Linked DNA regions of Homo sapiens. The protein of the gene in region 7 purifies or fractionates together with the protein of the main gene of each other region. This does not show direct contact. Each region holds a gene or a part of one and is shown on either strand. Other genes may lie near its edges.

Evidence for each region.
Region 1: the proteins of SCCPDH (region 7) and SLC25A13 fractionate together in Homo sapiens (co-fractionation; one large-scale study listed by BioGRID). This does not show direct contact.
Region 2: the proteins of SCCPDH (region 7) and PAM16 fractionate together in Homo sapiens (co-fractionation; one large-scale study listed by BioGRID). This does not show direct contact.
Region 3: the proteins of SCCPDH (region 7) and PDE4DIP purify together in Homo sapiens (affinity purification with mass spectrometry; 3 studies listed by BioGRID and IntAct, with this or other methods). This does not show direct contact.
Region 4: the proteins of SCCPDH (region 7) and TAF1 purify together in Homo sapiens (affinity purification with mass spectrometry; 2 studies listed by BioGRID and IntAct, with this or other methods). This does not show direct contact.
Region 5: the proteins of SCCPDH (region 7) and IPO7 purify together in Homo sapiens (co-immunoprecipitation; one large-scale study listed by IntAct). This does not show direct contact.
Region 6: the proteins of SCCPDH (region 7) and SAAL1 purify together in Homo sapiens (affinity purification with mass spectrometry; 4 studies listed by BioGRID and IntAct, with this or other methods). This does not show direct contact.

Annotation. Positions count from the first base shown.
Region 1 is NC_000007.14:96,189,599-96,193,098, forward strand, and holds part of SLC25A13 (electrogenic aspartate/glutamate antiporter SLC25A13, mitochondrial), read right to left. Parts: coding exon 3,439-3,500; intron 1,650-3,438; coding exon 1,511-1,649; intron 77-1,510; coding exon 1-76. UniProt on the Homo sapiens protein: Mitochondrial electrogenic aspartate/glutamate antiporter that favors efflux of aspartate and entry of glutamate and proton within the mitochondria as part of the malate-aspartate shuttle.
Region 2 is NC_000016.10:4,341,322-4,344,821, forward strand, and holds part of PAM16 (mitochondrial import inner membrane translocase subunit TIM16), read right to left. Parts: intron 1,971-3,500; coding exon 1,886-1,970; intron 184-1,885; coding exon 47-183; intron 1-46. Other genes in the region: CORO7-PAM16 protein, read right to left, coding at 47-183, 1,886-1,970. UniProt on the Homo sapiens protein: Regulates ATP-dependent protein translocation into the mitochondrial matrix. Inhibits DNAJC19 stimulation of HSPA9/Mortalin ATPase activity.
Region 3 is NC_000001.11:149,001,428-149,004,927, reverse strand, and holds part of PDE4DIP (myomegalin), read right to left. Parts: intron 3,338-3,500; coding exon 2,902-3,337; intron 2,079-2,901; coding exon 1,886-2,078; intron 1,318-1,885; coding exon 1,198-1,317; intron 20-1,197; coding exon 1-19. UniProt on the Homo sapiens protein: Functions as an anchor sequestering components of the cAMP-dependent pathway to Golgi and/or centrosomes.
Region 4 is NC_000023.11:71,379,857-71,383,356, forward strand, and holds part of TAF1 (transcription initiation factor TFIID subunit 1), read left to right. Parts: intron 1-1,886; coding exon 1,887-2,063; intron 2,064-2,679; coding exon 2,680-2,807; intron 2,808-2,904; coding exon 2,905-3,012; intron 3,013-3,134; coding exon 3,135-3,308; intron 3,309-3,500. UniProt on the Homo sapiens protein: The TFIID basal transcription factor complex plays a major role in the initiation of RNA polymerase II (Pol II)-dependent transcription.
Region 5 is NC_000011.10:9,446,140-9,448,627, forward strand, and holds the end of IPO7 (importin-7), read left to right. Parts: 3' UTR 1-1,988; downstream 1,989-2,488. UniProt on the Homo sapiens protein: Functions in nuclear protein import, either by acting as autonomous nuclear transport receptor or as an adapter-like protein in association with the importin-beta subunit KPNB1.
Region 6 is NC_000011.10:18,099,583-18,103,082, reverse strand, and holds part of SAAL1 (protein SAAL1), read left to right. Parts: intron 1-3,500. UniProt on the Homo sapiens protein: Plays a role in promoting the proliferation of synovial fibroblasts in response to pro-inflammatory stimuli.
Region 7 is NC_000001.11:246,730,909-246,734,408, forward strand, and holds part of SCCPDH (saccharopine dehydrogenase-like oxidoreductase), read left to right. Parts: intron 1-3,500.

The DNA.
Region 1 (3,500 bases), on a different chromosome or scaffold from region 7:
TCTGCTAACTGAAACAAGATGTCAACTTCCATGGGTGTAACCTGACCAAATTTCTGAGCTGCCAGAACAAACTCCTCTGTATGGAAGAAAAGTTAAAAGGGAAAGATTCAAGAAGAAATAGCCACTAAATTCAGCATTAACTCAAGGCACTGGAATGAGTGAACATCACAAAACTTTATTATTATCATCAGTTGTAGAATTCAAGTCAATCCAAATAAGGTAAGAATTTTTGCAGTTCTTGCATCCATTTGGAAAGCGTGTGCAGAATATGTTCTTGAATATACAGTTTAAAAGCTTGGGGTCATCTGATGTTATTCAAATTGCCAATCAGAGAAAATAAGGAATCATATATGAAACTTCATATGCATAGGTCCCAGGAGGGGAAGTTATATTAATCTAATTAACTGGTTAAATTAGGATTATTAATTATATTAATTTAGGTGGTTATATTAATGAAGGTGTGGAATTCCTAAGGGAATTCTGATTTTTTTTTTTTTTTTTTTTGAGACAGAGTCTTGCTCTGTTGCCCAGGCTGGAGTGCAGTGGTGCAATCTCGGTTCACTACAACCTCCGACTCTTGGGTTCAAGCGATTCCCCTGCCTCAGCCTCCCAAGGAGCTGGAACTACAGGTGTGTGCCACCATGCCCTGCTAATTTTTTTATATATACATTTTTAGTAGAGACGGGGTTTCACCGTGTTAGCCAGGATCGTCTCAATCTCCTGACCTCATGATCTGCCCGCCTCGGCCTCCCAAAGTGCTGGGATTACAGGCATGAGCCACCGCACCGGCTCTGATTTTTTTTCTTAATCCCATTACAATGCTGATAATATCCTGTCCCAAGCCTACAGACCAACTTACACTGTCACCAATGCAACTTTATGGAATTCCTCATATACACCTGAAGGCTTCCTTAGAGGTTGCCAATTTAGCTCAAGCTGTAGCAAGATTTGAAAATATTTAAGAAACTTTACATGTTTTCCTTATTCAAAGGGTGTCTTCAGTTTATTTATTTATTTATTTATTTATTTTTGAGATGGCATTTTGCTCTTGTTGCCCAGGCTGGAGTGCAGTGGCGTGATCTCGGCTCACTGCAACCTTCGCCTCCCAGGTTCAAGCGATTCTTCTGCCTCAGCCTCCCAAGTAGCTGGGATTACAGGTGCCCACCACCACACCCGACTAATGTTTGTATTTTTAGTAGAGACAGGGTTTCACCCTCTTGGCCAGGCTGGTCTCGAACTCCTGATCTCAGGTGATCCACCCACCTCGGCCTCCCAAACTGCTGGGATTTCAGGTGTGAGTCACCAAGCTGGGCCCAGTTTGTTTAAAACTTGGTGAAGATTGTTTTGTTTGCTTTTGTTTGTCTGATCAAAGGATGAAAAACACACGTTATCATATAGTTAATATGTGTCAATGGGATAGAAAAATAATAAAGTACTAGTTGCCTTCTTCACCCTAATAATAATACACCACAATACTTGCAGGCTAGAATTCAGATATATTCTCACTCACCCTTAGTCACTTCAACATCTTTCCTGGTGCCAGCCAGAGTGCTATAGATCTTTCTAATGAGTTCCATGTTGTTAAGGAGCGAATTAAATCCATTAAAATAGGAGAAACTAACTTGATGGGATGTGGTACCTCCAGCAGCCTCAAATAAATTGAAAACAAGAGAGAAGAAAAATATACAAAAGATTTATAGATGATTCAGAAGTACATACATCTAAAACTAGTTTGAAAGTAATCAAAAATGCATGTACAAGAAGAAATGACTATAAGTATTTTTCTTTTGCATTAAAAAAAAGCTATAAATGATTTTTAGAAGCAACTGCAACTAATCATGACCAGAACTTGTACTCTCCATACACAACTCCTAGAAAACTAAATAAATACATGTGTAGGATTATAACAGGACTAGTAGTAATTTAGAGTTCAAATTTCAATTGGAAATGTTTTATAAGTTGGTTTATTTCATCTAATGAGCAAATCTTAAAGGCTTAAACATGCAAAAACTATAAGTACATATGCACACATGTGTGTGCTTATGCATGAAAAACTGTATTGTATCAATGCAAACATACTATGAAAAGTAGTCAATGTAACATTAATATCAAGACTTGTCAAGTTACTTATAACCAGTAATAAATAATCATTTAGGTACAGACTTTACATTGGTGGGATTTCTAGCAAACAAGCATATTATGGTAAAATTATGAGATGCCATATACTTTCATGGGGGGTTAAGACTAGTAAAAATTCTGATAATCAGAATTTTTAAGAAACCATATTTCTTCACAGGGGACAAGGGAAACAGACAGAATGTCCATTATGAATGAGACTTCAGTTTGGAGTTTCAAATTCTATCCTTCCCTAGCAAGGCAAAATATTTTTATTAGGAAAGCACTTCTTTACAAGGTAACAACCACATAAATCTTCACTTAGTAATCATTTAAAATAGCTGACATGAAAGTTTAGTATGGAGTAGAGAAGGGGGCGCCCAAGAAAAGGAGTTAGATTAACACAGTGCCAGAATGGAAGAGGCCTCGTTGGAATACCATGTCTCTAGAACTAAGGACTTGGGGGAAGAAAGGAAACTGAAAGGCTACTCTGAGTTCCTGCCTATGGTAAGCACTGTGGGAAACCCAGATGATGGTGAAAACAGTATTCTCCCTGGGATTAACAAAAGGAGAGTTACCACGGGCTATTGGTCCTAAAACTGAGTTATTACCAAAATCACCCAGAAGCTTTACAAAATTAGATTCTAAGACCTCATCGCCTATAGATGGTGTATGATAGGCCTAGAAGAGATCTCAGAATCTGTAGTTTTAATAGTTTTTAGTGGTGATTCTGGTGCTCCACGAGCAGGTCTTAAGAACCACCACCACAGAATGTTGCAGGACATCCCCAGGGCCCATGAGGGAAGGACAGCAGCTGACACCTGGAGGAGGGAGGCTCCATGAAACACAACTGCAGGGCTCTGCTGTCACATGTAACTCTGTGGCCTCGACACATACACGGTGAAAGGGAATCTAAGGTTTGGAGTTTCTGTTGTGCTAACTACTCTAACAAATGATATACATGTGCACTATTTTTTTTTTTTTTTTGCCTTAGAGCATCTAAGAAGATTAGCAAAAATCAGCCCTTGATATACTTCAAAATCTAAAACAAAATTAACATGAGATCACAAATCTGTTTTTCCTTTTATCTTTAAAAAGCTAATGTATTTCTCGAAGATATTCCGTATTACCCAGACAACAAATTAACCTACCCACTAAAACTAGCCAAAACACACTCTTTGTTTGAGTTTAGTAATGTATGTGATCACATTAAAATGTTAGTGTTTGCAACAGAAAAAAAACACTACATAACTTATAAGAATTGTTTTTATAATTCCTTATTTACTGAGTTAAACCACTTCATTAGGGCAAGTTACAACTTACAGCTACTAGACATTCTTCTACAAAAGGAGTCAAGACATGGGGGCGGATGGTGACCATGATGT
Region 2 (3,500 bases), on a different chromosome or scaffold from region 7:
TGGCAGCCTCTCCCTCTCAAACTTTGGGGTGGCCCAGTGGCCTCACCTTCTGGACCTCCTCAGGGCTCAGCTTGGACACGTTGAGAATCTGCTGTGCCTCCTGGAGGCTGAGGCCGGAGAGGTTGGAAGCGGCTGCAGACCGGTGTCCAGCGCGTCCTCGGGCATCAGCTGCGGCCCGGCTGGCTGTGTGGACATGTGGGTGATCGCTCAGTCCTCAGCAGCCCACACTTCACCCTGGGCCTTCCGAGTTGGTGGCTCACCCCTGCCACCAGCACAGGATGAGAGACACAGGGACAGGTGGCTAGGAGCTGCCTCTTCTCCAGGAGTGGTTTCCTTTTTAGGGGGTAGAGGCTGGGAAAGTGAGGACAGACGTGCCTCACTGGAGGGTAAGGGCAGGATCTGACCGCTAATCCTGGCTCCTGGTCCCCAACCTAGACCATGAGATGACCCTGTCCCCCAACCCCCATATCCCAGGGGAACAGCAAATTGGGGAGCTTTAGGCTACGATGGAGACTGTATAGTGGGGCTGCGGGCATGAGAGGGCTCTGCAGGGGCCCAGCTGCCCACCTGTCACCTAGACCACCAAAGCCACTGCCTTGGGTGACCTCTCCCCTTTCAGTGACCCCAGAACCTAGAATCAGGAGCTGCTAAACTTTTCCTAAAGGCTCAGAGAGTAGCTATTTTAGGCTTTGCGGGCTAATGAGCCTACACTGGAACCATTCAACTCTGCCTTGAAAGCAGCCTGTCGGCCGGGCACAGTGGCTCACGCCTGTAATCCCAGCACTTTGGGAGGCCAAGGAGGGCAGATCACGAGGTCAAGAGATCGAGACCATCCTGGCCAAAATGATGAAAACCTGTAAAATACAAAATTACTAAAAATACAAAAATCAGCTGGGTGTGGTGGCACATGCCTGTAGTCCCAGCTACTGGAGAGGCTGAGGCAGGAGCATTGCTTGAACCCGGGAGGCAGAGGTTGCAGTGAGCCAAGATCGCACCATTGCACTCCAGCCTGGGCAACACAGTGAGACTCCGTCTCAAAAGAAAACAAAAGGGCTGGGTGCGGTGGCTCACGCCTGTAATCCCAGTACTTCAGGAGGCCGAGGTGGGCATATCACGTGAGGTTGGGAGTTCAAGACCAGCCTGACCAACACGGAGAAACCCCGTCTCTACTAAAAATACAAAATTAGCCGGGCATGGTGGCGCATGCCTGTAGTCCCAGCTACTCAGGAGGCTGAGGCAGAAGAATTGCTTGAACCCGGGAGGCAGAGGTTGCAGTGAGCCAAGATCGCACTATTGCACTCCAGCCTGGGCAACAAGAGCGAAAACTCCGTCTCAAAAAAAAAAGATTTATTTACAAAACCAGGGCCGGGCGCTGTGGCTCACACCTGTAATCCCAGCACTTTGAGGCAGGCGGATCACCTGAAGTCAGGCGTTCCAGACCAGCATGGCCAACATAGTGAAACCCCGTCTCTACTAAAAATACAAAAATTAGCCTGGTATGGTGTCGGGTGCTTGTATTCCCAGCTACTCAGGAGGCTGAGGGAGGAGAATCACTTGAACCAGGAGGCAGAGGTTGCAGTGAGCCAAGATTGCCCCACTGCATTCCAGCCTGGGCGACAGAGTGAGACTCCATCTCCAAAAAAAGAAAAAACAAGTTTACAAAATCAGGTATCCAGATGGGCCAGTGTGCCAGCTCCTGCCCTGGATGCTCTTGCTAACCAGGTACCACTGAAGAATGCCCCGGTCTGGCATCACCCCCCACCATGGGAAGTGCCTCAGGCCACGCACACTTCAGAACCGCCAGGCCTGAGGTGCCCATGGCTACGGGGAAAATCTGACCTGGAGAGGAACTCCCAGCCCACAGGGGAGACGGACCCATGCTTACCTGCAAACTCCTGCCGCAAGGCCCGTGCAAAGGCCCTGCCCACCACCTGCACGCCCATCACAATGATCTGGGCCAGGTACTTGGCCTGTGGGCAAAGCAGGCACCCGGTTAGCAGGCCACTCCCTGTGGGCCCACAGAGATGGGCCCTGGAAACGGCTGCCGAGGGGCAAGGCTCCCGGAGACCCGAGGTCATGAAGCACAGAGCTGCAGCCCCAGGCCAACCCCTCCAAAGCACCCTGAATGAAAGCTTCCATGGTGGGTGGCTTAGTTACTCACTGGACAGGCAGGCAGGCGGGTGAACTTGACCGAGCTCCCAGAGGCAGACTGGCCCCACCTCATCCTTCAGGAAAGGCGTAGAGGAGCAAGGCAAAGTGGCTGCAACCACCGGCTTCAGGAAGAAACACTGTGGTCTGGGAGCCAGAACACAGGGACAGCCCTGGACCTGGCAGTAACTCACTCTCGACCCTGGGGCCGACCATCACTCTTCCTGAGTTTCTGAGATCATCAGGCCCAACCTTTACTTTACCAACGGGGAAACAGATCTGTCCTAATTCTCCCAAGTCCGAAGACTTTAAGTCCATTCCATTCAATAAAACAAACTTACTATGCAAACCTGTTTCCATCTTCAAGGAGCTAAAAGCCCACTAGGAGGGTATTTAAACACACTATGGACCAAATCATGAGGGAGAGTCAGGCTCGTTCATTTGTGCAGCCATTGGTTCACCCATTCATTCAAACATCTGCTGAGAGTCTACTCTGCTCAGCACTTGAGCACAAAGCTACACAGAACCTGGTCCCTGCCCCGAGTCAGAGCACACTGCTGGCCTGGCAGGGAACCCCACTGTCACACACCAGGCTGAACATGCCGGAACACTGCACGTGTGATTCCATGCCCCGCAGAGGCCCTGGGGACTCACTAAGATGTGAGCGGAAGCAACAGAGTCGAGGGAAAACTCAAGACTGAGATGGGATTCGGTGAGAGGAGGGGGTTCTGTGTGAGAGGAGGGCGTTCCGTGAGAGGAGGGGGTTCCGTGAGAGGAGGGGGTTCCGTGAGAGGAGGGGGTTCTGTGAGAGGAGGGGGTTCTGTGTGAGAGGAGGGGGTTCTGTGAGAGGAGGGGGTTCCGTGAGAGGAGGGGGTTCTGTGTGAGAAGAGGGGGTTCTGTGTGAGAGGAGGGGGTTCTGTGTGAGAGGAGGGGGTTCTGTGAGAGGAGGGGACTGTGTGACAGGAGGGGGTTCTCTGAGAGGAGGGGACTGTGTGAGAGGAGGGGGTTCTGTGAGAGGAGGGGGTTCTGTGAGAGGAGGGGGTTCTGTGAGAGAAGGGGACTGTGTGAGAGGAGGGGGTTCCGTGAGAGGAGGGGGTTCTGTGAGAGGAGGGGGTTCCGTGAGAGGAGGGGATTGTGTGAGGGGGGGTTCTGTGAGAGGAGGGGGTTCCGTGAGAGGAGGGGGTTCCGTGAGAGGAGGGGGTTCTGTGAGAGGAGGGGGTTCCGTGAGAGAAGGGGGTTCCGTGAGAGGAGGGGGTTCCGTGAGAGGAGGGGGTTCTGTGAGAGGAGGGGGTTCCGTGAGAGGAGGGGGTTCTGTGAGAGGAGGGGATTGTGTGAGAGGAGGGGATTGTGTG
Region 3 (3,500 bases), about 98 Mb from region 7:
CTGTTGTGCTCCTCACACTCTGAAAAAAGACAAAGATGTCTTCCTAAATAAAAGTTGGATGTGCTGTTGTGGCCACTGCCTTTGAGAGGAGGCAGGTTTGGTCATGAGGACAATAATTACTAGGGAAAAAGTTGAAGTAGTACTTTATTCAACCCTGACACTGTACTAGGCATTCAAATACAATATTTCTTATCTTCCTTATACCTACAAGTTAGGTTTCATCACTTTCTATTTTACTGACTGGGAAACCAAAACTTAAAGAGAGGTGGTAAACTAGCTTGTTCTAGATCACTCAAACTAGCACATGGCAGAGCCAGAATTCAAATCCTCCAATGTCCTGTGTTCATTCCACACACACTGGTGTTTCTTAAGACATTAACATGGCCTTATCTATTTAGGATGGCCACAAGAATGTAGGACAAGCTATTACTGCATGCTGAAAGTTTAATGCTCTTTAAATTTTACTATAATTTAAAAGTTTATTGGGTTACAACTGTATGAAAAATAGGCATAGGAAAATAAGGCTTCAAATAAATATATCAGCATGTTAACATCAGTGTATTAGGGCAGTGGTAGTCAGAATGAGAACTAATCCATGGCATTTTACCAGATGCCAGGCACTGTTCTAAAGCATTTTATAAGAATTTACTCATTTAATTGACCTTAGTACCTGATGGGGTAGGTAGTTCCTTTATTACTATTTTAACACATGAAGAAACTGGGACATAGGAAAGTTTTCAAACTGGGATTTGAACCAACCAGTCTGGCCCCAGGATCTTGTCTCTTAACTGCCACACTACACTGCCTCAAGAATGAGAGAGATTGTGTTTTTCTTCTCTTCTGGTTTTCAATGTGGTGGGTGGCCCTATAGTTGTAGTCTTTTTATAATGCAAAACAAAATTATTTTTAATTTATGGCTTGCATGTTTCTAAAACCTTATCTGGTCTCTAAGTAGGCCTTAGTATTTCTATAATAATCAGTTGGATAGAATTTTATATTATTATTGTTATTAGCAGTATGCCAAAAACTAATTGTAGAAATTCAAACTTATACTCAGCCTCATTTTGGGTAAGATTTCTCCTATTAACCTCCTGTCCTCCTCTTCCCCAATACTTGTCAGGTGTGGAATTGGCCAACAGCATCCAAATGTGACAGCTGACTCCAGGGAGGGGTGAGCCCCACACCCTGTGCTCTTACCAGGACTGGTGGTTTCCTCCCGTTCAGCCTCATTCTCGCTTCGGCCACAAGTCTCATAGCCCAGGTCCTGGAGGTCCACCTGGATCTGCTTGCTGTCCTGCTTCACCAAGGATTCACCTGCTTGGGAAGAGAAGCAGGTGTTACAGAATGTCTGAATTTCCCACATATGCCCTCAGCCTCAATGGCACATACCCTAACCTTTTGAGGCACGGAAGGCAGATCCACAGTGGGAGAGAAGCTTCTCTGAACTGGTGGGAGAAGAGATCACCAGCTCCAGGAAGCAGAATTTCTTTCCAAAGGAGGAGCCTGCATTTGCCATTATCTCCCCTTCAGATAACCCAGGCTTTAGTTGGGACCAGATATCTGTAAGTCAGGGATTGTACACTATCATCTCTAGCAGCCCCATTGAAGCTGGCAAGTGCTTTATCCGCAGGGGTTCAATAAATGTTGAATGGAGCTGAACTAATTTAGAGTCCCAAGACCCTAGACCTGTACTGTCCAATAAGGTAGTTAGCAGCCACATATGGCCACTTTATACTACATCAACTAAAATTAAATAAAACCAAATGTCCAAGTTGCACTAGCCACACTTCGTGTGCTCAATAACCACGTTATGTCGGTATAGAACATACAGAACTTATAAGACATATAGGCTAGTTTTCTTTACTAGTAAGTCATAGTTACTTACTAAGCATAACTCTGTATTTCTCCAGCTCGTTAGCCTGAGCAAAGACAGTGGCTTCTGATAGCAGCAGCTTCTCCTGGAGATCTTGATAGCGTTGTTTGCATTGTGACAGCTGGGAGCGCAGGTGCTGGGTGGACCCTGGTAGGCTAAACGCTGACTGAGGCCCAGGGTCACGAGGCTGGGACTGGTTATCCAACTGTGAAAGGGGCCAATACAGGGATCAGGACAGTCTGAGGTCACCCCCATGCAGTGACGACCACCGCCCCTTCTGAACCCTGTGGACTTTACTCAAGTCTGTCACAGCACTTCTCATGCCATTTGGCAGTGACTTGCTTTCCAGATGGAGCTCCTGGAGCGCTGGGATAATGTTTTCTTCATATCTGTATCCACAGCACACAGCACAGCACCAATCAAGTCTACAGAGGAGCTCTCAGGAAATGTTTTCTCAGTGGTCAAAAAGAGACCACTCATCTCCCCTCACATTCTGTCCCATTGATTCTCTCAGAATCCCTGTATTCTCCATTTCACTGAATCTTCAGCATGGCTCCTTCCCTAAAGAGGATCCCAGTAACCCATCTGAAGCCCAGGAACAGACACCTGTGATGAGCTGTGACAAAAAAATGGCAGTGATAAGGGATGTCATTACATACCACTTGTCTGGGCTGCCTCATAACCTGATGCATCCCTATGTTACAGCAGTTACCACATCCTGTTAAAATTACCTGTTTGTGTGCCATCTTTCCCGACAATATTAAGTATCTCAGGGGCAGCCATTGGTTTTATTGCCCCATGCCAATGCCTAGTGTGTTATCTGAAAAATTAAGTACTCAAGAAATATTTATGTTATAAAAGCCTTTCTAAAGGCTGAATGTAGGCAGAATATTACTATTATTGTTTGTGGTACAAAGAGACCCTTCTCTTGGTACCTCCTGATTCATATGGGAGAATGTTTTAAGGTAAACACTGTCATCTCAAGCCCTTCTCCAATTGTTTTTCACTCAATCTAAGCCCACACTTACTTGGTGGGCATCCACTGTGAAGGTAGCCCCAAGGTCAAGGCTCTGGGGTCTGGGGAAAGGCCTCACAGTCACATTCCCCTCCTCTTGGTGTTGGTGCTTCCCAGGGGAACCAACCAGTTCTGTGTTTATTCTTTCAATGGTGCTGGTCAGATGCACAAGGAGCTCTGGAGTAAGTTTACTATTCCCTTCCTTGCTACTCAGCACAAGTTGTTCTTTGAGGAGGTTGATGATATTGTGGGCATTCTTCAGTTTTCCCTGGAGCTTTCTGAACTCAGCCTGAAGGCTACTCTCACTCAGACCCTCTTTGGTTACCACAGTCTCAACCATCACCTCGCCCTTCTCCTTGTCTTCCTCGATCTCCCATCCATCAGACATTGCTTCTCCCATCTGCTCTTTCAGCTCCGCATTCTCAAGGCAAAGGCTCAGCATGGTGTTCCTGCAGGAAACACACTTAATTGAGGGCTAGGTCTGGTCCTCACAACAGTTCCTAATACTACCTCTTACCAACATCTCAGCCCGCAATTAACTCAGACTTACCCCAGAGCATGAAGCAACCTGAGACCTACCACAGCCCCCTAATTTTATATACAAGAAAGCCA
Region 4 (3,500 bases), on a different chromosome or scaffold from region 7:
CTCCCAAAGTGCTGGGATTACAGGCATGAGCCACCACGCCTGGCCTGAAGTTAAAGATCTTTCTGAACTATAACAGTACTTTATAGTATATTTTTGTTCCCAAGTCCCTTTGTATTTAGAATTCTAGTTTCCTATTTTTCTCCTTAAATAGGTTTTTTTTTTTAAGGTATGCCATGATTAATGTAAAAAACTTTGAAAATACAGTATAGTGTTAAAGTCACTGGTAATCTATCTGGAGATTATCAACTGTTAAGTTTTGGTGTATTTTCAGTGTTCTGTGTGTGTATGTAGTTGAGCTCATTTCCGTATGTACAGTTTTGCATACTGTGCTTTTCACTTACTAAATATTTTTCTCTCTTTCATTTTTTATTTTTCATTGTTGAGACAGGGCCTCACTTTGTTGCCCAGACTGGTTTCAAACTCCTAGACTCAAGTGATCTTCCTGCCTCGGTCTCCCAAAGTGCTGAGATTACAAGCAAGAGCCACCCCACCCAGCCACATAAATATTTTTGTGTCATTTAGAGTTCTTTATAAAAATGTTTAATGACATGGGAAACTCGTTCATTTTATTTTAATTAAATTATTATTTTTTGTAGAGGTAGAGTCTTGCTATTGTTGGTCAGGCTGGACTCCTGGGCTCAGGTGATCCTCCTGCCTCAGCCTCCCGAGTAGCCAAGACTTCAGGGGCATGCCACCACGTCTGGCTTGAGAAACTCATTTTAAATGGAAATAAAGAAGATATGAAACAACATATATGATATCCTATTAGTGTAAATGAAAAAAAGCAGACTATATAAACATAGAAAGCTGGATTACTTTTATATTTTGGAGGAAAAACAAAATTTTTTCTTTTTTGAGACAAGAGTCTCTGTCGCCCAGGGTGGAATGTGTTGGCGCGATCTTGGCTCACTGCAACATCTGCCTCCCAGGTTGAAGTGATTCTTGTGCTTCAGCCTCCCGAGTAGCTGGGATTATAGGCGTGCACCGCTGTGCCCAGCTAATTTTTGTATTTTTAGTAGAGACGGGGTTTCACCAGGTTGGCCAGGCTGGTCTTGAACTCCTGACCTCAAGTGATCTGCCTGCCTTGGTCTCCCAAAATGCTGGGATTACAGGCGTGAGCCACCACACCCGGATACAAAAATGTCTGATTTTTAAAACCTAAGAAATAGGTTTTTTCCCTTCCATTCTGCCCACTTTATGGGTTATATATTACTATTACGAATGTTTCATAATTTACCGATAACATGTTGCATTTGTTAATACAATTTATTACCATTTATTGTTAGCATACTTTACCATATCATTTATTGTCATAATTTAACCAATTCCTTCTTAAACATTTAGGCTATTTAAATTTCAACTATTATAAACAGTATTGCAGTGGACATTTTTGACTGCAACATTATTTTTATTTATTTATTTTTTGAGACAGAATTTCACTCTTGTTGCCCAGGTTGGAGTGCAATGGCACGATCTCAGCTCACTGCAATCTCTGCCTCCTGGGCTCAGGTGATTCTCCTGCCTCAGCCTCCTGAGTAGCTGGGATTACAGGCATGTGCCACCACACCCAGCTAATTTTTGTATTTTTTGTAAAGATGGGGCTTCTCAATGTTGGTCAGGTTGGTCTTGAACTCCTGACCTGAAGTGATCCACCTGCCTCGGCCTCCCAAAATGCTGTGATTACAGGTGTGAGCCACCGTGCTGAGCCTGCAACATTATTTTAAAGTGAGAAATACACTGTGTAGGTTCCTTTTCAGTGGACACATGAATAACTCCACTAACTCGCTCTACTAACATGAGTAACTCTTTTTATCTTTGCCAGAATCTTGATTGAAAGGGGCATAAATGTTTTCTCTGTTACTATTTCCTCCTTGCACTTTGACTAGGTTTTGCAGCCACTCTTGATGATGACAAACCTTGGTACTCCATTTTTCCCATTGACAATGAGGATCTGGTATATGGACGCTGGGAGGACAATATCATTTGGGATGCTCAGGCCATGCCCCGGCTGTTGGAACCTCCTGTTTTGACACTTGATCCCAATGATGAGAACCTCATTTTGGGTATATTACTGGCAGAGGCCAGTGTTTCTTCTCCTTTGAAAACTTGCTGTTAATGTCAACGGGCAGGAGGAAATCAGAAGGGTTGGAGATGATTAGGACTAGAAACCTGTAGGTAGCGGCTTGAGAGAGCGAAGTTTTGGCTGTTAGTTTATATTATTTGTGTATATGCTTAGGGAACACTCACGTAGGAATGTTGGAAAGTTGCAACTTTGAGATGTCAAGAGCATAGTTTGTTCCGTTAGTGAATCATGGACTCGAAACTTCTAGGTAGCAGTTTGAGAGAGCAAAATTGTGGCAGTTAGTTTTTATTATTTGTGTATTCCCTAGGGAAAACTCATGTAGGACTGTCGGAAAGTAGTACCTTTGAGATGTCAAGCGTGTAGTTCACTTAGTGAATCATGTACTAGAAGTGATTTGGGATGGGATGAAAAGATACAGGTGTAGTTCAGTTAGTAAATCGTGGACTAGAAGTTACCTGGGGGGGGGTGGGATGAAAGGTCTAGTTAAGACCTTCACTGGAACATCCGTCACCTTAAAGAAGAAAACTGGATACTTGTCTGTAGGAAAGGTGAATCTTCAGGGAGAGCAACTCAAGTGATTTTTGTTTTATTCTCAGAAATTCCTGATGAGAAGGAAGAGGCCACCTCTAACTCCCCCTCCAAGGAGAGTAAGAAGGAATCATCTCTGAAGAAGAGTCGAATTCTCTTAGGGAAAACAGGAGTCATCAAGGAGGAACCACAGCAGGTGTGTGAAGAAAAAAGGGGCTTGGTGTTTAGAAGAACAAAGAAAGGTAATAGAGAAGGATAGTCTGACCGAGATTTGTTTGATTATCTATCATTAGAACATGTCTCAGCCAGAAGTGAAAGATCCATGGAATCTCTCCAATGATGAGTATTATTATCCCAAGCAACAGGGTCTTCGAGGCACCTTTGGAGGGAATATTATCCAGGTACAAATAGTGTCTTTTCTGTGATAGAGGAGAACCCCATGGCTTTGTTCTGACGGAGGATATGGGAAAATCTTGCTTAGGATGGAATTAGCTAATTTTAACCCTTCTATTTCCTGTTTTAGCATTCAATTCCTGCTGTGGAATTACGGCAGCCCTTCTTTCCCACCCACATGGGGCCCATCAAACTCCGGCAGTTCCATCGCCCACCTCTGAAAAAGTACTCATTTGGTGCACTTTCTCAGCCAGGTCCCCACTCAGTCCAACCTTTGCTAAAGCACATCAAAAAAAAGGCCAAGGTATAATTGAATTCTGGTTAGAAAACAGCTATAAAGGATATTGGGGTATAAATTAAGGGAATGTACCAGGTATTAGATTGTATTAGGGAATTGGTTATTTTCTCAGATGTGATAGAATGTTATTTTGGTTATTTAGGAGAATGTCTTTATTGTTAGGTGATGCATGTGAAAATATTTAAAGGTGAGGTGTCA
Region 5 (2,488 bases), on a different chromosome or scaffold from region 7:
ATATAAAGTTCTGCTCTTAAAGAGTTGATCTAAGAGTATGGCTAAACATCTATATATGCAATCTATTAAAAGAACTTAATTCGGCTATTATGTCTTGATTTGATTGCAGTTTTTTCCTAATTATAACAAATTTTTCCTCATTGGCCTGTTTTTAATCCTGTGCCTAGAAGGAGTACAAAATGCACACTTTACAAAATTGATATTTAACACTTACCCACTCCCCTTTCCCCATCTCTTCTACCGCTCTTGTTGATCGTGGTATCTGATCTTGACTAGATAGGCTGAAGGCACATGGTTCCCTCCAAAAACCACTATTGATACCACTACAAAAACAAGCCAGCAAAAAGATACTGTAGAGAGGTTGGCTTGCTTCCCTCTCTTCCTAACTGCATGTTGAAAAATAAGCCGTTATTGATCTTAAACATCGGTCAGATGAGTCATACATTGGGTTATTTTTTATATACATGTATACACAAAATATTTCAAATTGAAAGCAACATCTTAATGGATTCAAAACTATTACAAGCTGTTGTCTAAAACAGGTGAGAAAAAAATTTATAACTGTAAAAACAAATGCACATATTGATATTTAAAATGCGTAATTAAGAAAACCCATTGTTGTTGTGTTTTTCTTGTATACCAATAATTAAGCCACTACTGTTGGCACTGTTTGGTTTTCTATTTTAACACTGAAGGAGTGAAAGTATTTCCTATATTTATGAATTTACTACTAAAATCTTGGCAAAAAAAGAAAAAAATTGTCTAACGTGTGTGGGTGAAAACTGTTAATCAAGTGTTTCTACTCCCCCCCGAAAATCCCCTGAAAGTTGGACACCAACTGTATACCCTAGGTTGCTTAAAGGGATTTCACTATTATATAAAGTCAATAAAAATGAAGTAGTTGTATATATGCAACATTGTGTACAGAGGGGAAATAATGAATAGTATTAAAGAAACATTCTCGTCTTCCTTTACCTTTAATCCCCTAATACCTAGTCTACTTTTTAAATTTTCAGACTTCACTGCTTTTTGAATTCATAATTCTAATTTTCACATTATTGTTAATGGAAAATCATATCTAATAAAGGTTTTAGTTATTCCCATGCACAGTATGAAAATTCTCATTTGCTGAGGTTTTGTTTCAAGAAAATGTATTGGCATGTCTTTGAGAACATGTTTTATTGTCTCCTGTGTCATATAATCCAAACTAATCTCCGTTTACAGACTTTAACTTGAAATTAGACCTTATAATTAAACTATTTAAATAGTGTTCAAATGATAGTTTCTAATGCATCAAATATATACCTCAGTTTTCATGATTTCCTTTAACATTATAATTTGGTATAGATCAAGAATCTTAACATGTATCAGTTTCTAGATGAGGCTGCAGGATTTTTGGAAAACTTTTTGAATGTATTTACAATATTCTCTTGTAATTAGCTACATAGGGACTTGTCTTTTTTTCTTTTTACATACAGCTTTTCCTACAGTTTTATTACCCTGTAATTTTTTTTTAGTTGTAGAAGTTAATTCTGATTTTGTGTGGATTTCAGTATTTGTCTTTGTTAATGGCACATATTAGCATAAATCACTTTTGTAAATGTAAGCTTTCTTTTTTTTTCTTGAAAAAGCCTTTCTATTTATCAGTATTAAATAAAGGAAGTTAATCTGTTTCTCTGCAGGTAATAAAATAGTGACACACTGTATTAAGATAGTGACTGCTATACTCAACTCTGGAAGAGACTAGAGTATAGAGCATGAGTGGCAAAACCACAGCCCTTGGGCCATATGCTGCTATTCAGTCCCAGATGTAGCCCCTGAAGCAAGCATAAAGAAAAATGAATTAAAAATTAAATTAATATGGAAAGTTAAAAAATGGATTACATTAGTATGACTAAACCATGTCTTTGGCAAAGATCTAACACAATGTCTTAAGTATAATAGGTAGTCTCTGTTTGTAAAATAAATGACTTAAATTTAAAACATCAGTTATAAAACTGTCAGTTCTGTTCTTTGTAATTTAAATTTTGGTAAAGATTTTCTGTGACCATTTATCAGTGCCTACTGAATTCTAGCTTTTATCCTTGGTGAGTTGGCCATTCTTGCAATAGCCACTTCACACTTTGGCTCATGGTAAACAAAGGTTACCTGGAAAGTGCTCTTGGAGATAGTACTGGCATCTCTCAATTGGGGGAGTTACCTAAATCAGACCTGCAAATTAGAGAAGGCTAGGATAATAGATTCTTTAACATAAACAGTTAACATTTTAAGTTGACCTGGCAATCCAAAAACTAGCATTAGCAGAAGCAGTATGCTTCTCCAAAGGTCTTCTAGACCCAGGCTGTAACTCAGCTAACTGAAGTGATCCAATACTGTTCTAGGCCCTTCATCCTTTGTATGTAGTATTACCACTGAATAGATTTGTATGTAGTATTATGACTGCATAAAACAAACAATGGGGACAGATATATCCCTTTCCTTTAAGGAC
Region 6 (3,500 bases), on a different chromosome or scaffold from region 7:
GGGCTATAAATGCTAAACTTCTGTCTTTGAGGCTGGAGGATTTGAGCTCTCAACAGATTCGGACTAAATACGTAGCTCTTATGAATGTATTCCTATACACATGTAGGCCGGGAAAGTTCTGATACTTACCTACCTAAAGAGAGCTCTGGCCATATATTTGACAGCAGGTTAGGAGTTAGAAGACCACTGATATACCATGATAATATTAGAAGGAAAGGACAATAAATAATTATATGTCTGTAATTGCAGTATTAATCATAGTGTTTTAATATCTGTATTTTATTCTATAGCTCAAAAGCATTTTCATATATAGTATTCTATTTGATCTTCACAATAACCCTGTGATGTAGGTAGTACCCTTATTTTACAGTTAAGAAAATAGAGGCCAAAAGACATTAAATGACCTATGTAATCTTTCTTGTTTTATTACCTGGACTTTAGCAATAGCTTCCTGATTAAAATCCTTGTTTTAGTCTCTTTCACCTCCCTTCTGTCCTCTACATTGCCACCCGTGTTACCTTTTTTTCCGGAAATACAGACTTAATTGTACTCATTTTCTTAAAAATTGTCAATGGCTATTCATTGTTTCAGTCATTTTATTTAAAACTTTATTGAGGTATAATTAACACCAAAAAACTGCATATTGTTTTGAAGTATCATTGACATTGATTTTTTTTTTTTTTTTGAGATGGAGTCTCTATCACCTAGGCTGGAGTACAGTGGTGCGATCTCAGCTCACTGCAATCTCCGCCTCGAGGGCTCAAGTGATTCTCCTGCCATAGCGTCCAGAGTAGCTGGGAGTACAGGTGTGAGCCACCAATCCCTGCGAATTTTTATATTTTTAGTGGAGACAGGGTTTTACCCTGTTGGCGAGGCTGGTCTTGAACTGCTGACCTCAAATGATCCATCCTCCTCGGCCTCCCAAAGTGCTGGGATTATAGGAGTGAGTCACCGCACCCAGCCAATAAACTTTGACGGATGTGTACGCAGATTAAGCTGTCACTGTAATCAGGATACAGCGCATACCCATCACCCCTGAAAGTTTCTTTATGGTCCTTGGTAGTCTCTTCCTCTTGCCTCTCCATTCCTCCATCCCCTCCAGGCAACCACTGATCTGCTTTCTGTCACTACAGATTAGTATGTATTCTAGAGTTTTATATGAATGTGCTCATATGCTTTTTTTGGTCTGGCTCTTTTATACAGCATAATTATTTTGAGATTCATCCATGTTGTGTATATCAGTGGCTTTTTTTTTTTTTTTTATTGCTGAATGGTATTCCATTATATGTATATACCACAATTTATTTTTTACCTGTTGATGAATGTTGGAGTTGTTTAAGGCTTATTACAGATAAAGCTGTTGTGAACTTTTGTATACAAGTGTGTATGGACATATACTTTGTTTTTCCTTGGGTGAATACCTAGAGTGGTGTGTTAGTCCATTCTCATACTGCTATAAGGAAATACCTGAGACTGGGTAATTTATGAAGGAAAGAGGTTTAATTGACTCTCAGTTCAGTATGGCTGGGGAGGCCTCAGGAGACTTACAATCATGGCAGAAGGGGAAGGGGAAGCAGGCACCTTATTCACACGGTGGCAGGAAGGAGAAGTGCGAGCAGGGGAAATGCCAGACGCTTATAAAACTATCAGATCTCATGAGACTCACTCATTATCATGAGAACAGCATGGGGGAAACCACCCCCGTGATTCACTTACCTCCACCTAGTCTTGCCCTTGATACGTGGGGATTATGGGGATTGCAATTCAAGGTCAGATTTAGGAGGGGACACAGAGCCAGACCATATATCAAGTGGCATGGCTGGATCATACGGTAGGTGTATGCTTAACTTTTTAAGAAACTTTCAATTTGTTTTCCTAAGCAGTTTTTTACCATTTTACATAACCACAAGCAGTGTATGAGACATAATTCCAGGTCCAATTTCTCCTCAACCTCACCAACACTTAGTATGGTCAGTCTTCTTAATTTTAGCCATGCTAATAAGTATGTAATGATAGCTCATTGTGATTATAATTTGGACTTCCTTAATTCCTAATGATGAGCATCTTTTCATGTGTTTATTTGTACTCTGTGTATCTTTTTTGGTGAAGTACCTGTTTGAATCTTCTGCCTGCTTTTTAATTGTGTTGTTTTCTTACATTTTCTTCTAAAAGTTTTATAATTTTAGGTTTTACATATAAGTCTGTGATCCATTTTGAGTTGATTTTTGTATAGTATATGGTGCAAGGATGGATGAAGTTTATTTTTTTGCTTATGGATATTTAATTGTTCAAGTTCATTTGTTGAAAAGACGATCCTTTCTCCACTAATTGCTTTTGTGTCTTTGTCAAAAATCAGTTGTCCACATACTTTATAGTTTGAAATCTTTTCTTTTTAAAGATAGACATCAAGCACTATAGAATTTTCCCTAAATATTTATGCTTTACCAGTATTCCACAATTTCTGATATGCTGTGTTTACAATTTTTTTTGAGACAGAGTCTCGCTCTGTATTTTTTGTAGAGATGGGGTTTTGCCATGTTGGCCAGGCTGGTCTTGAACTCCTGGCCTCAAGTGATCCCCCTGCCCCGGCCTCCCAAAGTGCTGGGATTACAGGCGTGAGCCACCATGCCCGCAGAAGTTCAGAATACTTTCTAATATTCTTTACTTTTTCTTTGGTTTATAGGTAAGTTTCAAATATTTGGGAATGTTTCAGTTATCTTTCTCTTGCTGTGGTTGGTGAACACTGAATCCTTTTAAATGTGTTGAGATTTGTTTTATAGCCCAGAATATGGTTTTAAGTAAACCTGAAATATTTACCATGTTGACTTAAAAAGCATGTGTGTTCTGCTGTTGCTGGGTGGAATATCTTATTCTCAATGTCAGATCAGGTTGGTTGAGAGTATTGTTCAGATCTACTTTCTATTCTACAATTATTGATAAATTATGGTTAAACAAATTTTTTTAAAAAGAAATAAAACCTGTGTTTTAAATGAACTCTTAGGGTGAAAGTCTCAGTTTTAAAATTGAGAAAACAGCGCTACTGTTTGAAGGAGGTTATTGGTGCAGGGCAAAGTCATGTTCTTTGGCCTCCTTTTGCTCCCTTACAAGAGGTGCCCTTGAGGCACCACTCAGAACTGAGCTCTCCACTGACAATTGAGGTCCCTGGCGCAAAGTCTGGTGAGTTTATATCTCAGTCTTGTCGCCTATCGTTCTGTAACCATGAATTCAGTGTGCGAGGACCAGAGACCTCCAGATACTTCCTGCACTTTCACGTGTCCATGGGCACTATTCATGCCGCTCTGCTTAGAATGGCTTCCAGCTGGCAAAATCCTTCTCATTGTTTATGGCCCGGCTTCAATGTCACCTCCTCTGTGATGCCACCCCAGACACTCCAGTCAGAATTAACCTGTCTTGTTTTGGTGTTCCCACAGAATTGCTTCACTCTGTTACATGTGTCCTCTGATGGATTTAAATTCCTTCTCATCAAAGCATAATGTCAC
Region 7 (3,500 bases):
AATTAGCTGGGCATGGTGGTACACACTTGTAATTGCAGCTACTCGGGAGGCTGACGCAAGAGAATCACTTGAATCCGGGAGGCGGAGGTTACAGTGAGCTGAGATTGCGCCATTGTATTCAAGCCTGGGCAGCAAGAATGAAACTCCAGCTCAAAAAGAAAAAAGAAGAAGATGAGACATGGAGAGCAGGATTGCGGTTCTGACCTTTGAGCCAATTGGCCTCACAGGGGAGAAGTGTCTCCCCGAGATGAAGGATTGCTACTCTGACTGTTCACCTGTCTCAGACAAGCACAGGGTACTAAGTGGAGAAAAATCTAGCAAGTTCATAAAATAGGAATAAGTTAGTGAGAAGTCTCAACTCCAGATTACTCAAAGAAGTGGGCCAGATGTGACAAAATGCAGTAAAAGTAAGGAATGGGCAGACTGGCAAATAGGAAAATGCGTTTTCTTTCCAGAAGGAGCTACGATTATTTTAATAAGCTCATTAATACTTCACTGCAGCCTGCCAGTACTCATAGATACACTGCCTAGCTGATGGGCTCACTAGCCAGACATGAGAAGTGAGCCTGTGGCTGTAAGGCAGAGCCTGGAGGAGCTGGGAGTTGGCCCAGCAGAATGAAGGGAGGGTGCTCCAGGTAGTGGAAGCAAGCACACTGGGTGTGAAGAAGCAGCATGCTTGGGGAATTACATGGAATTTAGAACTGCTGGAACATGAGAATTAAGGGGCTGTGGTATGATATGATACTAAGGACTTTCTGTGACATGCTAAGAAATTTGGACTTTGTACTATATACTGTAGGGATTTTTTTGTTTTTGTTATTTTTATTTAAGTTCTAGGGTACATGTGCACAACATGCAGGCTCGTTACATAGGTATACATGTGCCATGCTGGCCTGCTGCACCCATCAACCCGTCATTTACATTAGGTATTTCTCTCAATGCTATCCCTACCCCTGCCCCCCACCCCACGACAGGCCCCAGTGTATGATGTTCCCCACCCTGTGTCCAAGTGTTCTCATTGTTCAGTTCCCACCTGTGAGTGAGATCATGCGGTATTTGGTTTTCTGTCCTTGTGATAGTTTGCTCAGAATGATGGTTTCCAGCTTCATCCATGTCCCTGCAAAGGACATGAACTCATCCTTTTTTATGCCTGTATAGTATTCCATGGTGTATATGTGCCACGTTTTCTTAATCCAGTCTATCAGATTTGAAGAGTGGATATGTTATAGGAGTGAGGCAGGAGGAAAGGTGACATCACATTTTTATTTTAGAATAACAATTTGTTATGTATTTGGAGATGGGGCTAGCTGGCTGCAGTATAACCAGTTAGGGCCTATTTATAGTAAATTAGATGAGTGTTGACAGGGTCTGAACTAAGATATAATTGTGCAGGGGAGAGGAGACTGATTTGAGATAATTTTAGGAAACTGAATTGATAAAACTTGGTGACTTCCAGGATAGGTAGCATGAAAGACTGCTTCCAGATTTTTTTTTTTTTGAGGCGGTTCTTGCTCTGTCACCCAGGCGGAAATGCAGTGGTGCGATCTAGGCTCACTGCAACCTCCACCTCCCGGGTTCAAGCAATTCTCCTGTCTCAGCCTCCTGAGTAGCTGGAACTACAGGCTCATGCCGCCACACCTAGCTAATTTTTATATTTTTAGTCGAGACAGGGTTTTACCAAATTGGTCAGGCTAGTCTTGAACTCCTGACCTCAGGTGATCCACCTGCCTCGGCCTCCCAAAGTGCTGGGATTACAGGCATGAGCCACCACACCCAGCCTGCTTCCAGGTTTTAACCTGAGAATTATGTGGGGAGTAATGCCATTAAATAAAAAAAAGAAGCCATCTGAGTACCATGTGCCTGGCCCCACACTAAGCTCTTTGTATTCTCTTATTTCATCCTCACAACTACCCAGGGAAGTGAGTGTTGTTATTCATCACCATTCTTTGATTGAAGAGGTTGATGCTTAGAGAGGTAAAGTGACTTGCCCAGGGTCACACAGCTAGTGGCTGCAGAGCCTGGATGTAAGTGTGGCCTGACTTAAAGCCCACACTCTAGACCACTCTGCTGTTCAGCCATTTGCTCAGTTTTGTCTCAGAGTCTTCCCTCTTTTGAGCACAACAGAAAGATGTTAGAAGTGGGACCCAGGCAGGCTGAACTAGAGGCTATACTTTGTTTTTTATTTTTATTTTTTTGAGATGGGGGTCTCACTTTGTTGCCCAGGCTGGAGTAGAGTGGCACGAACACAGCTCACTGCTGCCTCAACCTCCTGGGCTCAAGGGATCTTCCAGCCTCAGCCCTGAAAGTAGCTGGGACTATAGACTGGTGCTATCACATCTGGCTAATTTTTGTATTTTTTGTAGAGACAGGGTTTTGCCCTGTTGCCCAGGCTGGTCTCTAGCTCTTGAGCTCAAGTGATTCACTCACCTTGGCCTCCCAAAGTGTTGGGATTACAGACGTGAGCCACTGTGCCTGGCCATGTGTTTATATATATATGCCATATATATATAGTCCTTATATGTATAATATATATATATAATAAGTATATGGCCTCTATATATAGTCCGTAGCATCATATTTTATACACACACACACACACACACACTTTTTTTCTTAGAGAAATGGGGTCTCAAAGCGATCCTTCTGCCTCAGCCTCCCAAAGTGCTGAGATTACAGGTTTGAGCCACCACACCTGGCCTAGAGGCTACACATTGAAGCACGTGCTAGGAAGTGGAGGAGGAGAAATAGGTTTAGAGAGAGAGATGATGAATTCGGTTTTAGACTTGTTGAAATTGAGGTGTCTGCTAGATACCTTGCATCAAGACAGAAAATACAAATAATATACTGTTTGTATATGATGTTTTATAAGTAAGTGAGAAAATCAGGGGGAAGAGAAAATAAAAGGAAAATGTAGGCAAAGTGAAATTAGTTTTATGTGTGACTCATGCTACATGTCCTGTGCTCTCACTGGTCCTGACCTTTCTAACAAAAAACAGAGGGAAATCCTATCAGTGAGCAACTCTAGACATAGAGGTTGGAGGTCACAGCACAGATTTTATTGAAGTTGGGAGAGTAGGTGAGATTTCCTGGGAGAATGTCTGGGGCAGTGATTCTCCATCTTTGAAGTACACAAGAATCACCTGTGAGGCTTATTTACAATGCAAGTTACTGGAGTCTACCTCAGAAAGCCTGATTCTGGGGGTCTGGAGTGGGAGTGAGTGACCAGCATGCAACCCAGGTGATTCTAAAGCAGGTGGACTCATGGCCAACTTGAGAAATTTGGGGGTGAAATAACTTAAGAACAAGGCCGAGAAAGCTCCAAATGAGTTTTAAAATGGATGTGTGCAAACCCTAAGGATCAACCAGGATAATCCACTGGGTGCAGAAAGCATATGGAGCTTCAACTTCTGTTTTAATCTCAACTTTAGTTCTATTTAAATATGTTTAAAATGTGTGTTTTATTCATTTGGTAGGCAATTTAAGTGATTTATAAGTAAATT